Linked DNA regions of Homo sapiens. The protein of the gene in region 1 interacts with the protein of each later gene in a pairwise test. Each region holds a gene or a part of one and is shown in the gene's direction. Other genes may lie near its edges.

Region 1 (3,500 bases):
GAAGATTAGTGGTGGTATCAATGAATATAATTTCTGATATTTCACCATGAAATGTGTCAGCATTTGGAAGCTACGCATAACTCAGCAAACAAATGGTTCCTAGTTACCGATGTATGATTTTACAAAACTGTAATGGGTAATCCATCAAAGTACAAAATACCAACAGATTTTAAGGGAACACTGAAAACTTCATTGATGTGGTTTCAGATTTCATATTGCAACTAACCTTTGAGAAACAACTGTGTTTTTATGTAGTATCAAAGAATAACACCTATAGTTATCTGAAAATGCTATTCAACTACTTACCTCTTTTCAACTGTATATCTGTGAGAGTCCAGATTTTCTTAATATTTTTGGACCAAAACAACATATTGCAACAAATTGAATGCTGAGATAGATGTGACAATCCAGGTGTCTTCTACTAACCAGATGTTAGAGGTTTGCAAAAATATACGATGCCACTCTTCATACAAAATATCTTTGTTTTGGAAAATAATAAGTTTTTAAAATAAAAATATGTCATTTAATATGTGATGTATTTATTTTTTAAATGAACTAATATATTTAGATTTTTATCAGTTTTTATTTCTAATATAGTAAACATTGATAGATGACCCACATTAAGAAAAACAAAAAACAAAAACTCTTAAATTTTAAGAGTGTAAATGATCCTAAGACCAAAAAGTTTGTGAACTGCTGGTCTAGAGTTTATTGGCTTGGGTTTCTACATGCAATGGCTTTACTTCAGCAGGTATTCTTTTTATTTCCTTTATAGTGTGAGGCCTGATAACTAATATCCTAGTTGTTTAACTCAGTGGCCCAATCTCACTCATCTGTTGATGTCGCCTCCAAAGTATTTGATGTTCTTGGCCCTTTTTAAATTGAAACTCTACTTCCTTCATGTCTCTAAGACTCCTTTTTCATAGATTTCTGTGTATATCTCTGAAACCCATTTCTGCCTCCCCAAACTTGGCATCTGTATATTCTTTACTTTGTATGTGGCATAAACTCCTTTCTGGAACCTCAGCTAGAAACTGTCATTGTCTCAGCTTTGATTCTAATTTGTAGTCCTCCTTCATGTCCTTTCTCTGGATTGTCTCTTAAATCTATCCTTTTTCCTTTTATGTAGTTACAGTTCAGAAGCCCATATCACTTCTGTCATGAACTATTGGACAAATTGGTCTCTCCTTTGGAATGCTACTAACATGATCTTCATTATCTTTTTTGAAACCTATGTGATTATGTTGGTCCCTGTATATTTAAAAAAAAAATTGAGTCCTATTAGTGGCTGCTGAATAAAGGCTGAGATCCTTAGGATAGTGTTCAAGGCCATAATAATAATCTATCCCTAAACTACCTTCCTAGCTTCATTTCCTGCTGCTTATCCCAATCCTGTGCTGTGTCAGCACTGAATTATTTTTATCATATGGTACTTTTTCTTTCTCTTTCTTTCTTTCTTCTCTTTCTTCTCTTTCTTCTCTTTCTTTTCTTTCTTGAAGGAGTCTTGCTCTGTCGCCAGGCTGGAGTGCAGTAGCGCGATCTTGGCTCACTGCAATCTCCGCCTCCCAGATTTGAGCGATTCTCCTGCCTCAGCCTCCTGAGTAGCTGGGATTACAGACGTGTGCCACCATACCTAGCTAATTTTTTTATTTTTAGTAGAGACAGGGTTTCACCATGTTGGCCAGGATGGTCTCCATCTCCTGACCTCGTGATCCGCCTGCCTCAGCCTCCCAAAATGCTGTGATTGCAGGCGTAAGCCACCATATGGTACTTTTCAAAGAAGCCCTCTAGGATTACCATCCCTCCACCCCTTGGTATCATATTGATTCTATGTATGTAGAGTCAGTCATGCACTCCATAATGACATTTTTGGTGAGTGGGGGACCACATATACAGTCCCATAAAATGATACTATATTTTTACTCTACTTTTTCTATGTTTAGATACAAATACTTACCATGGTGTTACAATTACCTGCAACATTCAGTATAGTAACATCCTGTACACCTGTAGCTTCAGAGCAATAGGCTCTACCATATAGCCTAGGTATGTAGTAGGCTGTACCATCTAGGTTTGTATAAATACATTCTATGATGTTCTGACAATGAAATCACCTAACGATGCATTTTTCAGAACATATCCGTCATTAAATGATGCATGGCTGTATGTATATGTAATTATTCCTGGAGAATAAATATATTGTAGTATAATTGTCTAGACACTTATCTGCCCTACAGGGCAGAGACCGTCTTATTCACTTTGGTATTCCCAGAAGCTAATAAAATACCTGAAGTATTGTAGATATTTAAATGTTTTTTTTTTTTTTTAATTTATTTTTTTATTGATAATTCTTGGGTGTTTCTCACAGAGGGGGATTTGGCAGGGTCATGGGACAATAGTGGAGGGAAGGTCAGCAGATAAACAAGTGAACAAAGGTCTCTGGTTTTCCTAGGCAGAGGACCCTGCGGCCTTCCGCAGTGTTTGTGTCCCTGATTACTTGAGATTAGGGATTGGTGATGACTCTTAACGAGCATGCTGCCTTCAAGCATCTGTTTAACAAAGCACATCTTGCACCGCCCTTAATCCATTTAACCCTGAGTGGACACAGCACATGTTTCAGAGAGCACAGGGTTGGGGGTAAGGTCACAGATCAACAGGATCCCAAGGCAGAGGAATTTTTCTTAGTGCAGAACAAAATGAAAAGTCTCCCATGTCTACTTCTTTCTACACAGACACGGCAACCATCCGATTTCTCAATCTTTTCCCCACCTTTCCCGCCTTTCTATTCCACAAAGCCGCCATTGTCATCATGGCCCGTTCTCAATGAGCTGTTGGGCACACCTCCCAGACGGGGTGGTGGCCGGGCAGAGGGGCTCCTCACTTCCCAGTAGGGGTGGCCGGGCAGAGGCGCCCCTCACCTCCCGGACGGGGCGGCTGGCCGGGCGGGGGGCTGACCCCCCAACCTCCCTCCCGGACGGGGCGGCTGGCCGGGCAGAGGGGCTCCTCACTTCCCAGTAGGGGCGGCCGGGCAGAGGCGCCCCTCACCTCCCGGACGGGGCGGCTGGCCGGGCAGGGGGGCTGACCCCCCCCCCACCTCCCTCCCGGACGGGGCGGCTGGCCGGGCGGGGGGCTGACACCCCCACCTCCCTCCCTGACGGGGCGGCTGGCCGGGCAGAGGGGCTCCTCACTTCCCAGTAGGGGCGGCCGGGCAGAGGCACCCCTCACCTCCCGGACGGGGCGGCTGGCCAGGCGGGGGGGCTGACCCCCCCCCCCCACCTCCCTCCCGGACGGGGCGGCTGGCCAGGCGGGGGGCTGACCCCCCCACCTCCCTCCCGGACGGGGCGGCTGGCCGGGCAGAGAGGCTCCTCACTTCCCAGTAGGGGCGGCCGGGCAGAGGCGCCCCTCACCTCCCGGATGGGGTGGCTGGCCGGGCAGGGGGGCTGACCCCCCCCCACCTCCCTCCCGGACGGGGCGGCTGGCGCGGGCGGGGGGCCGACACC
Region 2 (3,500 bases), on another chromosome or scaffold:
AATTCATACTGAATTCATTCAGTGTTAGCTATCCAAATAGCTGCAATGAAAGGCCAGTCAATATGAAACATGAAACTACATTAGCATATTTCAAAGACAGTGTATGAGTTATAAATGAATTTTTTAAAAAATTTCATGATGCTAGAAGATACAAAAGTATTACTGAGTGAAATAGATTGTAAAGTTTTCTACTTTTCCTTCTTTCTGAAAGATAAAATTTGTTGAAAGTTATCTATTTGTTGAAATGATTTTTTTAACATTTACTGACAGATATAAATAAAGGTAATATTTATGATTCCCATTTAGAGTAGGTAAAGGAAACAAATGACTGATACCTGATATTGAACCTTTCTTTTTGCTTTTCTATGTATTTATTTACTTATTTATTTTGAGACAGGGTTTAACTCTGTCACTCAGGCTGCAGTGAAATGGCATGATTACAGCTTACTGCAGCCTTGAACTCCTGGGCTCAAGCCATCTTCCTTCCTCAGCCTGCCGCGTAGCTGCATGCACCACCTCACCTGGCTAATTTAAATTTTTTATTTTTGTAGAGGGGTGTCTTGCTATGTTGCCCAGGCTAGTCTCAAACTCCTGGGCTCAAGCAATCCTCCTGCCTCAGACTCCCAAAGTGCTGGGATTATAGGCATAAGCCACTATACCTGGCCAATATTGAACTTCTGATACCCCCTTTTAAAAAATTTCAGTTCTAATTTAAATACATAAATAGAGGCTTCTGAAAAAAAATAATGCCTAGTTTCTGCTGTTCTTCATGTCTGTCTAACAGTCTTTCGATTTGTAGATAGTATTTGCGTCTGTGGATGCACTGTGTGACTGCTTTTCAGCATTCTTTCCTGCATAATAAATTTAACAGTGAATATTTAATTTACTCATAAGAAAACATTTCTTTTAAAAAATGACAAAATTAAAATAGAAGAAAGATACCTAATTTTTTTTGAGGTTTCACAGGTGTGAATAAATAACATAGTATCTTTGTTTTCTCAAGACACCATTTTGATTTCTTCCTAAAAATTTCAGCCTCTTAAGAAATTGTTTTATCTTAAAACCTTTTGAGATAAAACAGATTGTGGGCTTTTTAATGTAAATAATTATTTACATGCTTTAAGTATAAATTTAGGTTTCATATATAACTTTGAGAAGTGATATACAAATTTATCAATGCTATTACATTTGCTGCTATTTTAAATATATGTTTCATGTGGACATCCTTTTCTTGCACAGGACACTCTAAATGTGTAGAGATCATCTAGCACCAATTAAATGGCAAATCCCAAGGGCGCCTAAAAGTGTAGGGACTTCTATTCCCATTACATAAAGGTAAATTGTAAATATCCTCTCCTAAAAGTAAAAGTCTCTGATTTAGAAACAGTCATTAACCACAATGGGCACAATCATTTATATAAGAAAGGGACAACTGGGACGATGTAGCTCAAAGTTATGGTTTAAAATATTGGGGTCAATGGAAGTATGCAGCTCTTCTATAATTAAGGATTTTTTTTCATATTCCACATTCAGCATCTGTGAAATAGAGATCATTAAAAGAATGCTTTATTTAGAGTCTCTATTGGCAAAGGAAAAAAGTAAAAATTCCCACAGAAAGCATTATTATTTAAAATGGGAAATCATGATTTGTCATTCATTCTGACCTGTATCTGTTGAGTAAATGCATTTTCACCTACTTACACCCAAAACAAAAAGCTGAACAGAAAACTGATTACATGATCCATACGCCTATCTAATAAAATAGAGATGTGCACTTTTTGACAAGCTTATTCATAATACGTCCTGATAAAAAATTCCATTTGCCACTCTCAGTAGGAAAAGTAAGCATTTAAAGGAAACCTTTTATTTCATGACTGTCATCCAAATAACAATTACAAGCAAAATAGTGATAAAACGTTTTTTAAAGAGCAGCTTAGAACTTGTTATGGAAGTTTGCAATCCAGTTTTTGCCTTGTTATTTGATTTGAAAAAAATAATCCTGATAATCTTTTTTGAAGTTCACTGTTTCTAGGATGAGTTATACAGAACAAAGACTAACTGATATTCCCAGGAGTTTAGTTTATGGTGATGCTCTATTCTACTGAGAATGATTCTCCAATGGCCACATCTTACTTCTTCCCAGGCTGTGGGAATTCATTAATCTCTAGAGAATAGACTTAAATTAAACCATTGTCTCAACCAGCAGGTTTATGCAACCATCCTGAAATGTTTTAATTATTGTTTTCTTTTCCTTTTTAATTAAGAGACCAGAGGTCAAGCAAGCCCATTGAGAGCTGATCACAGCCTCTGTAGAAATTTAAAGAAAACTCTAATGATTGGATTTGCTGTTTTCTCTTTTGTTTTGCAGAACCAGAAGAGTGTGTTAATTGCACAGATGAATGCCGAGTGCTTGGTCATTCTGACAGGTGCTGGATGCCACAGTTCCCTGCAGCCAATCAGGCTGAAAATGCAGATTACCGCACAAATCTCTTTGTACCTACAGTTGAAGCTAATGTTGAGACTGAGACTTACGAAACTGTGAATCCCACTGGGAAAAAGACTTTTTGTACATTTGGAAAAGACAAGCGAGAGCACACTATTCTCATTGCCAACGTTAAACCTTATTTAAAAGCCAAACGTGCCCTGAGCCCTCTCCTCCAAGAGGTCCCCTCAGCATCAAGCAGCCCAACCAAGGCGTGCATCGAGCCTTGCACCTCAACAAAAGGCTCCCTGGATGGCTGTGAAGCAAAACCAGGAGCCCTGGCTGAAGCAAGCAGTCAGTACTTGCCCACTGACAGTCAATATCTGTCACCTAGTAAGCAACCAAGAGACCCTCCCTTCATGGCTTCCGATCAGATGGCAAGGGTCTTTGCAGATGTGCATTCCAGAGCCAGCCGGGATTCCAGTGAGATGGGTGCTGTTCTTGAGCAGCTTGACCACCCCAACAGGGATCTGGGCAGAGAGTCTGTGGATGCAGAGGAAGTTGTGAGAGAAATTGATAAGCTTTTGCAAGACTGCCGGGGAAACGACCCTGTGGCTGTGAGAAAGTGAAAAAAGAAAAAAAAAAAGGCATTGGCATTTTCTTGTCTCTTCTGTTGATTTAAAAATGATCCCTCCTGGTGATAACCCATTTTACAGGGATGAAGAAAGACCAATGCTGCTTTAAGGCTTTTAGTGAACATCTGAAGTGCCCACAAGTATGTTCTTTCCACTGCTGATTTCTTTTTCAGAGATAACAATGGTTTCGTTTTGACCAAACTTGTATTAGGACAGAATTAATGATGCTTAAAGAGAAAAGAAAAAAAGAGAGAAGAAAAAGGAGAGATGAAAAAGGAGGATGAGGAGAAGAATTACCTTTTGACAATCTGTTAGGAAGGTATGCAGTGTGAGAACTGAAGTATTTCTGATCACTCTCAGACTGTCCTCCGTGATTTATGCTGACTTAACTGTTTACCTATAAACCCCATACAAAGCAGGGTCATAATTTGTGATCTGTGGTG
Region 3 (4,196 bases), on another chromosome or scaffold:
TTATAAAACTGGCCAAGGTGGGAGGATCACTTGAGCCCAGGAAATTGAGACCAGCATGGGCAACACAGTGAGACCACTATCTAAAAAATAAATAAATAATAAATAAACCAATTACCCAGGTGTGGTGTCTGCACCTGTAGTAGCAGGGACTGGGGAGGCTACATCGGGAGGATTGTTTGAGCCCAGGAGATGGAGGCTTCAGTGAGGTATGGTCATGCCACTGCCCTCCAGCCTGAGCAACAGAGTGACACTCTGTCTGGAAAAAAAAATAAATAAAAACGGCTTTATAAATAAAGATATGAAAATAATTTATTTCTTCCACAAAAGGTCTTCCTGAGACACATCCTCCAGTAAGGGACTGTCTGTTCCCAACGTTTCTGAATGCATGAGATTGGACAAAGAGAGACGAAAGCTCTCAAGTCCCTTTTTCTACTACAAACGCCATGGGGATGCGGGTCTGGGAACAGCGGAAAACCCTACCCTGCCCTGAAAAGTCCCTGGCTCAATGTGCATGTCCCTTTCTATGAAAGTTCCTTGCTGCCTATGCGCCTTGCTCTCTAACTTCTGTCCCTCCACAACTGTGAAAGGAGACGTCGTGACTTCCTTCTTTCGTGCTGACTATGACTTAGCCAGTAGGTCTGCAGATCAGTCCTCCCAGAAAGTGAAGTGTGAGTGAGTGTGAGGGGGAGCGTGGGGGGCTTCCTGTGGGTTGTGCCACTTGGTCCATGGCCTCTGAGGTCGTCATCTTTCTACTAAAACTCAGCGATACTGCCATGGCCTTGCTGTTGTGGGGTCCCGGGCATGGGACGAAGGAGGGCCATAGCGGGGAGGAGGGTCAGGTGAGCATGGAGTGAGTTTTTTTTTTTTTTTCACGGAGTCTTGCTCTGTCACCAGGCTGGAGTGCAGTGGCGCAATCTCGGCTCACTGTAACCTCCGCCTCCCGGGTTCAAGTGATTCTCCTGCCTCAGCCTCCCGAGTAGCTGGGAGTACAGGCGCGCACAACCACACCCAGCTAATTTTTGTATTTTTCAGTAGAGACGGGTTTTAACCATGTTGGCGAGGATGGTCTCGATCTCTTGGCCACATGATCCACCCGCCTCCGCCCCCCAAAGTGCTGGGATTACAGGCGTGAGCCACCGCGCCCGGTCATGGAGTGAGTTTTGAAGGCTGACTTTATTTGAGGTATTTGAGTCCTGGTGGGGGGGAACCCACACACAGAGAGGAGGGATTCCAAAGTCGTTAATGGGGACCTGGGAAGGAGCATAGGACAGGGCAAGGCGGGATAAGGAGGGGCACCACAGCCCTTAAGGCACGAGGGAACCTCACTGCGCATGCTCCTTTGGTGCCCACCTCAGTGCGCATGTTCACTGGGCGTCTTCCCATCGGCCCCTTCGCCAGTGTGGGGAACGCGGCGGAGCTGTGAGCCGGCGACTCGGGTCCCTGAGGTCTGGATTCTTTCTCCGCTACTGAGACACGGCGGGTAGGTCCACAGGCAGATCCAACTGGGAGTTGAAGTGTGAGTGAGAGTGAAGAGGAACCAGCAGGCTTCCGGAGGGTTGTGTGGTCAGTGACTCAGAGTGAGAAGGCCCTCGAAGTCGTCGTCCCTCTCATGCGGTGCCACGCCCATGGACCTTCTTGTCTCGTCACGGCCATAACTAGGGAGGAAGGAGGGCCGAGGAGTGGAGGGGCTCAGGCGAAGCTGGGGTGCTGTTGGGGGTATCCGAGTCCCAGAAGCACCTGGAACCCCGACAGAAGATTCTGGACTCCCCAGACGGGACCAGGAGAGGGACGGCATGAGCGGTATGGAAGGGTCCTGGAGACGGGGCATGCTGCGGGCTAGTGACCGCAGCCCCGAGGTCTGTAGAGTGCCTGGCATAGGGGTCCTGTGAGGAGTGCCCACTGCTGTGTAGCAAATTCTCAACTCCACTGTGGAGATTCCAATGGGCGGGGCCCTGAGTTCCTAAAAATGTGACTTTGGGGTGGGGGGGAAGTGGGCCTAGCAAATCATTATGTGACAAAATTGGTGGTCACTGCAGTTTCAGTTCTGTAGCTGTAATTTCCTACTTGTCTCCCTGATGGAGTGTCCAGTTGTGAAACCAACCTCATGGGAAATGCCCTGTGTTTTTTGCCAGGAGCCTTAAGACATCGCTCAGCTAGCTAGACCTACTTAAGTGGCTTTGCAAGCATTCGATTCAAAAGGTGCATACACTTATACTTGCCCGGGGACTTTCAGAGTATTTCTAAATTAAAAAAAAAAAAAATGTCCAAGTTAACATTTGACCATGAAAGCGGTCAAATCTAGTTGTCCTGTCAAGTGCATTTTCCCAATCGCAGTATTCTGCTTGCAGAGTGAAGTATGTGTTGATGAGGACGATCAACATATAGGCCTATGCCAAGAAGTTCACAACCTCCTGAGCTCATTGTGCCTCTGCTTGTGAATGTCTTAACATTCGATGTTTTCTCTTAGCAGAAAGTTATTTTTCTGATAGTGTTGATGGACTAGTATGGATACACTGATAATGGTCTCCCATGCTGATAAAAAATGATCATGGCATCCCATGAAGGAAAGATTAGTCCAGAGGGTTATATTTGGGTTTTGTGTGGGTGGATGATCGTGTGTGCCCAGATTTTGTCCATAACTTCCTCCTCATGCTTATTCAGAACAGATTACACACATTCATCCCAACATTGATTAAAACGGCTTCCAAAGTCCCTGAGGATATCTGTCTTTGAGTAACCTCTCTGAGGGAAGAATAGTGTTATGAAGATTAGGTATACGGGGTAGTGTTGGAGAAATGTCTCTAGACATACTTATAATAAGACATACCTGTGTATTCTGTATATTTATATTATTGACATGTATTAATAACAAAACTTTTTATCTAGACACACACAAACACAGAACCACACAGCCAGTCCCAGGAGCCCAGTAATGGAGAGCCCCAAAAAGAAGAACCAGCAGCTGAAAGTCGGGATCCTACACCTGGGCAGCAGACAGAAGAAGATCAGGATACAGCTGAGATCCCAGGTGCTGGGAAGGGAAAGTATGTCTATGGGGCGGGAGAAGGTCTATGTGTGCATTGTGGCCTATGCCATGAGCAGTAACAGGAGCAAAGAGAACATTAGGAAAAGATACCAAACATTTGCTCAAAGTTGGCTGGAAAAGGGAGAGTATAGTTTGCAGCTTCATGCTGTCCCTGGATATAATGAATCTTCTCTTGTTCTTCGAGATGGATTTTGTATGCTTGAAAATACAGTCCTTACTAAATCACTTGAAACCATTTAATTTGGTGTATAGAAATGTACATTTTTTTATTATGTGGCAGAGGCTCATCTGTCACGCAGTGTGGATTGTTGTGGCATGATCTTGGCTCACTGCCACCTCCAGCTCTTGGGTTCAAGCGACCTCGGCCTCCCAAAGTGCTGAGATTACAGGCATGAACCACTACGCCTGGCTCAGGCTTTATTTCGTAACGCGAAGGAAGAGAATATTATCATTTCCTTATTTATATTTCATGTTGGAATGCTTAAATCGATAACCTTTGTATTTTGAAGTGCGCGACATGGAAGGTGATCTGCAAGAGCTGCATCAGTCAAACACCGGGGATAAATCTGGATTTGGGTTCCGGCGTCAAGGTGAAGATAATACCTAAAGAGGAACACTGTAAAATGCCAGAAGCAGGTATGTTATCCAGCAAGATGCAAAGTTATGTGCTTTCTCATTTACACAGTATTATACTTTTGATAATAGAGGGATAACATTAGTGCTACTTTAAAAACACAGTGCAAATGCAAATGTTCTTTGAAACGTCGTTCAGACCCAAATGCCAGATTGCAAGACTTAAACACTATCAGATACAGAAACAAATTGGGTCAAAGCCATATTGAATCATCAAACGTGACAGCATTTTCTTAGTTTGGTGTATAACCAACAGCTAACAATTTTCAGATTCTTTTCTAATTTCTGCTTTTAACAAACACATAATGCATTTGTAATACCAGTTTGTGTGAAGTATGCTGAGCCCTGAAGCAGATTCTAGTACCAGCTCTACCATAATTTGTGAGAGTCTGGATGAATCGTATAAATTCCACAGGCATCCTTGCTCTTAGTGAAAAGAGTGGATGCACATCAGATAGATTAAAATCCATTTCGTTGCTAATTTCCACATGCTCTGGTTCTGTTGGATAGAAGACCA
Region 4 (3,500 bases), on another chromosome or scaffold:
TGATGTCAATAGGAATGCCTATAGTATTTCACTGTTAAGAATAATTTGGCTGGTGATGCATGATGGCTCAAGCCTGTAATCCCAGCACTTTGTGAGGCTAAGGCAGGCAGATCGGTTGAGTCCAGGAGTTTGAGACCAGCTTGGGCAACAAAGTGAGACCTTGTCTCTCCAAAAAAAAAAATACTAGCCTGGTATGGTGGTGCATGCCTGTGGTCCTGTCGTCCCAGCTACATAAGAGGTTACAGCAAAAGGATCACTTGAGCCCAGGACTTGAGGCTGCAGTGACCCATGTTCGTACCAGTGCACTCCGGCCTGGGTGACAGGCGACCAAGCAAGACTCCATCTCAAAAAAAAAAGAATAATTTGGCTCTTGGTTTATGGTGTCCTAAAAGTCTTTTTAATTGTGGAAAATAAAATGTACAAAAAAGTGCATAAAACTTCAACATCCATGTTAACAAATTATTATAAAGTACATATGAATGTCTCGCACTAAGTGTGGTGCTTGCTGAGGTTTTTGATAGACAATCTTTATCAGATAAAGGCAGTTCTCTTAGTTTGCTAAGAGTTTTTAAAAAATCATGAATGAGCGTTGATTCCTATCACTACTTCTCTCTGCACCTAAGATGATCACAAGATTTTTCTCCTTGACTCTGTTAATATGGCATATTACCCTTATTGATTTTCTTTTTTCCTTTTTTTTTTTGAGTCAGTCTTGCTCTGTCTCCAGGCTGGAGTGCAGTGGTGTGATCTTGGCTCACTGCAACCTCCGCCTCCTGGGTTTAAGCGATTCTCCTGCCTCAGCCTCCCGAGCAGCTGGGACTACAGGCGCCCGCCACCACGCCCAGCTAATTTTTTGAATTTTTAGTAGAGACGGGGTTTCACCATGTTGGCCAGGATTGTCTCGATCTCTTGGCCTCGTGATCTGCCTGACTCGGACTCCCAAAGTGCTGGGATTGCAGGTGTAAACCACCGTGCCTGGCCTCCTTATTGATTTTCCTTTTTTTTTTTGAGACGGAGTCTTGCTCTGTCGCCCAGGCTGGAGTGCAGTGGCGCGATCTCGGCTCACTGCAAGCTCCGCCCCCCCGGGTTCACGTCATTCTCCTGCCTCAGCCTCCGAGTAGCTGGGACTACAGGCGCCCGCCACCACGCCTGGCTAATTTTTTGTATTTTTAGTAGAGACAGGGTTTCACCGTGTTAGCCAGGATGGTCTCGATCTCCTCACCTCCTGATCCGCCCGCCTTGGCCTCCCAAAATGCTGGGATTACCGGTGTAAGCCACCGCGTCCAGCCTCCTTATTGATTTTTTAATGTTAAAAACCATTTTGGGTGTTTGGCATAAACCCAACTTGGTGATAATGTTTTATCCTGTTTATGTATCACCAGATTCCGTATGCTGATCTTTTGTTTCAGGTTTTTGCATTTATGTTAATGAGTGATATTTGCCTACAATACTTTCTTGCTTTGCCCTTGTCAGGTTTTGGCATCAAGATTATGTTAATCTCGTGAAATGGATTTGGGATTTCATCTTCTTTTTCTATGCTCTGGAAAATTATCTATAAAATAGACATTATTTCTTCTTTACGTGTTTGGTAAATATTTCCATTGAAGCTGTATGGGTCTGGAGTTTTATTCTGGCGGAAGTTTTAAACAAGGGATTTGATTTATTTAAATATAATAGCTGTGGAATGATTCAGGTTTTCTATTTATTTTGTGCTGATTTTAGCATATTGTATTTTTTTTCTTTTCTTTCTTTTTCTTTTTTCTTTTTTTTTTTTTTGAGATGGAGTCTTGTTCTGTTGTTCAGCCTGGAGTGCAGTGATGTGATCTCGGCTCACTGAAACTTCCACCTCCTGGGTTCAAGCGATTCTCCTGTCTCAGTCTCCCAAGTGGCTGGGGCTACAGGTGTGTGCCACCACGCCAGGCTAATTTTTGTATTTTTAGTAGAGATGGGGTTTCACCATGTTGGCCAGGCTGGTCTTGAACTCCTGACTTCAGGTGATCCACCTGCCTCGGCCTCTCACAGTGCCTGGCCTGTATAATTTTTTTCTAGGAATTTGTTTATTCCATCTCAAATTGTAAATTCATTGGCATAACATTGTTTAAATATCCTTTTATTATTATATCCTTTTATCTTATTCATGGTTTATTAACTTTTTAATATGTGCAGGATATACAGTCATATACCACTTTTAATTTTTTTTTTTTTTTCTGAGATGGAGTCTCACTCTGTTGCTCGGGCTGGAATGCAGTGGCACGATCTTGGCTCACTGCAACCTCCGCCTCCCAGGTTCAGACGATTCTCCCACCTCAGCCTCCCAAGTAGCTGGGATTACAGGTGCACTCCACCACACCTGGTTAATTTTTGTATTTTTAGTAGAGACAAGATTTCACCATGTTGCCTAGGCTGGTCTCAAACTCCTGACTTCAGATGATCCACCCAATGTGGCCTCCCAAAGTGCTGGAATTACAAGTGTGAATACTGTGCCTGACCCTCTTTTGGTTTTAATTTGCATTTTTCTGGTGATCAGAGATGTTGAGCATTTAAAAATAGATCTGTTGCCCATTTATAGCTCCTCTTTTGAGAAATATCTGGTCAGATTCCTTGCCCAGTTTTTAATTAGATTATTTGTTTTCTTGTTACTGATTTGTTTGAGTTCCTTATGTATTTTGGATATCAGCTCTTTGTCAGATTTATGGTTTGCAAATATTTTCTCTCACTCTGTAGGTTGTCGCTTCATTCTCTTGGTTGTTTCCTTTGCTGTGCAGAAGCTCTTTGGTTTTGTGAGTCCCATTTGTCTAGTTTTGCTTTTGTTGCCTGTGCTTTTGGCGTCCTCTCCAAGACATCATCGCCAAGACCAATGTTGTGGAGCTTTTCCATTAGGTTTTCTTCTGAGAGATTTAAGTTTCAGGTCTTACATTTACATCTTCTCTATTGTGAGTTGATTTTTGTATATGTTGTGAGATAAAGGTCCGGCTTCATTCTTCTGGACGTGGATGTCGAGTTTTCCCAGCACTGTTTATTGAAGAGACTGTCCTTTCCCCATTGTGTGTTCTTGTCACAGGGCCCGCTTCTTTCCCCAGGACCCGGGCTGGAGTGGAAGGAGGGCTGTGCCTTCGCATGGATACCCTGCTCTCCAATCCAGGCTGCCGTGGTCCTCACCCCTTCCCAGGGTCTCTCTGACACTGAGGCCCTCTGTCCGCGCCGTTGGTTGTTGTGCTTGAACTGCTGGTTTTTGTTTTGTTTTGTTTTGTTTTTGAGATGGAGTTTTGCTCTTGTTGCCCAGGCTGGAGTGCTATGGCGCCATCTTGGCTCATTGCAACCTCTGCCTCCCGGGTTCAAGCGATTCTCTTGCCTCAGCCTCCCGAGTAGCTGGGATTACAGGCATGTGCCATCATGCCAGGCTAATTTTTCTATGTTTAGTAGAGATGGCGTTTCTCCATGTTGGTCAGGCTGATCTCGAACTCCCAACCTCATGTTGGGAATTTATATATATATGTTCT

The links. Proteins that work in one complex are often made in the same cells at the same time.
Region 2: the proteins of YAF2 (region 1) and PCDH17 interact in binary tests that used the Homo sapiens proteins (3 or more experiments, as listed by UniProt).
Region 3: the proteins of YAF2 (region 1) and XAGE1B interact in binary tests that used the Homo sapiens proteins (3 or more experiments, as listed by UniProt).
Region 4: the proteins of YAF2 (region 1) and CD300LF interact in binary tests that used the Homo sapiens proteins (3 or more experiments, as listed by UniProt).

Annotation. Positions count from the first base shown.
Region 1 is NC_000012.12:42,228,249-42,231,748, reverse strand, and holds part of YAF2 (YY1-associated factor 2), read left to right. Parts: exon of another isoform or gene 1-527; intron 528-3,500. UniProt on the Homo sapiens protein: Binds to MYC and inhibits MYC-mediated transactivation. Also binds to MYCN and enhances MYCN-dependent transcriptional activation. Increases calpain 2-mediated proteolysis of YY1 in vitro.
Region 2 is NC_000013.11:57,722,244-57,725,743, forward strand, and holds part of PCDH17 (protocadherin-17 precursor), read left to right. Parts: intron 1-2,368; coding exon 2,369-3,051; 3' UTR 3,052-3,500. UniProt on the Homo sapiens protein: Potential calcium-dependent cell-adhesion protein.
Region 3 is NC_000023.11:52,514,264-52,518,459, reverse strand, and holds the start of XAGE1B (X antigen family member 1), read left to right. Parts: upstream 1-1,396; 5' UTR 1,397-1,480; exon of another isoform or gene 1,481-1,609; coding exon of another isoform or gene 1,610-1,800; intron 1,801-2,886; coding exon of another isoform or gene 2,887-2,932; coding exon 2,933-3,028; coding exon of another isoform or gene 3,029-3,044; intron 3,045-3,555; coding exon 3,556-3,682; intron 3,683-4,196.
Region 4 is NC_000017.11:74,706,424-74,709,923, reverse strand, and holds part of CD300LF (CMRF35-like molecule 1 isoform 1 precursor), read left to right. Parts: intron 1-3,500. UniProt on the Homo sapiens protein: Acts as an inhibitory receptor for myeloid cells and mast cells.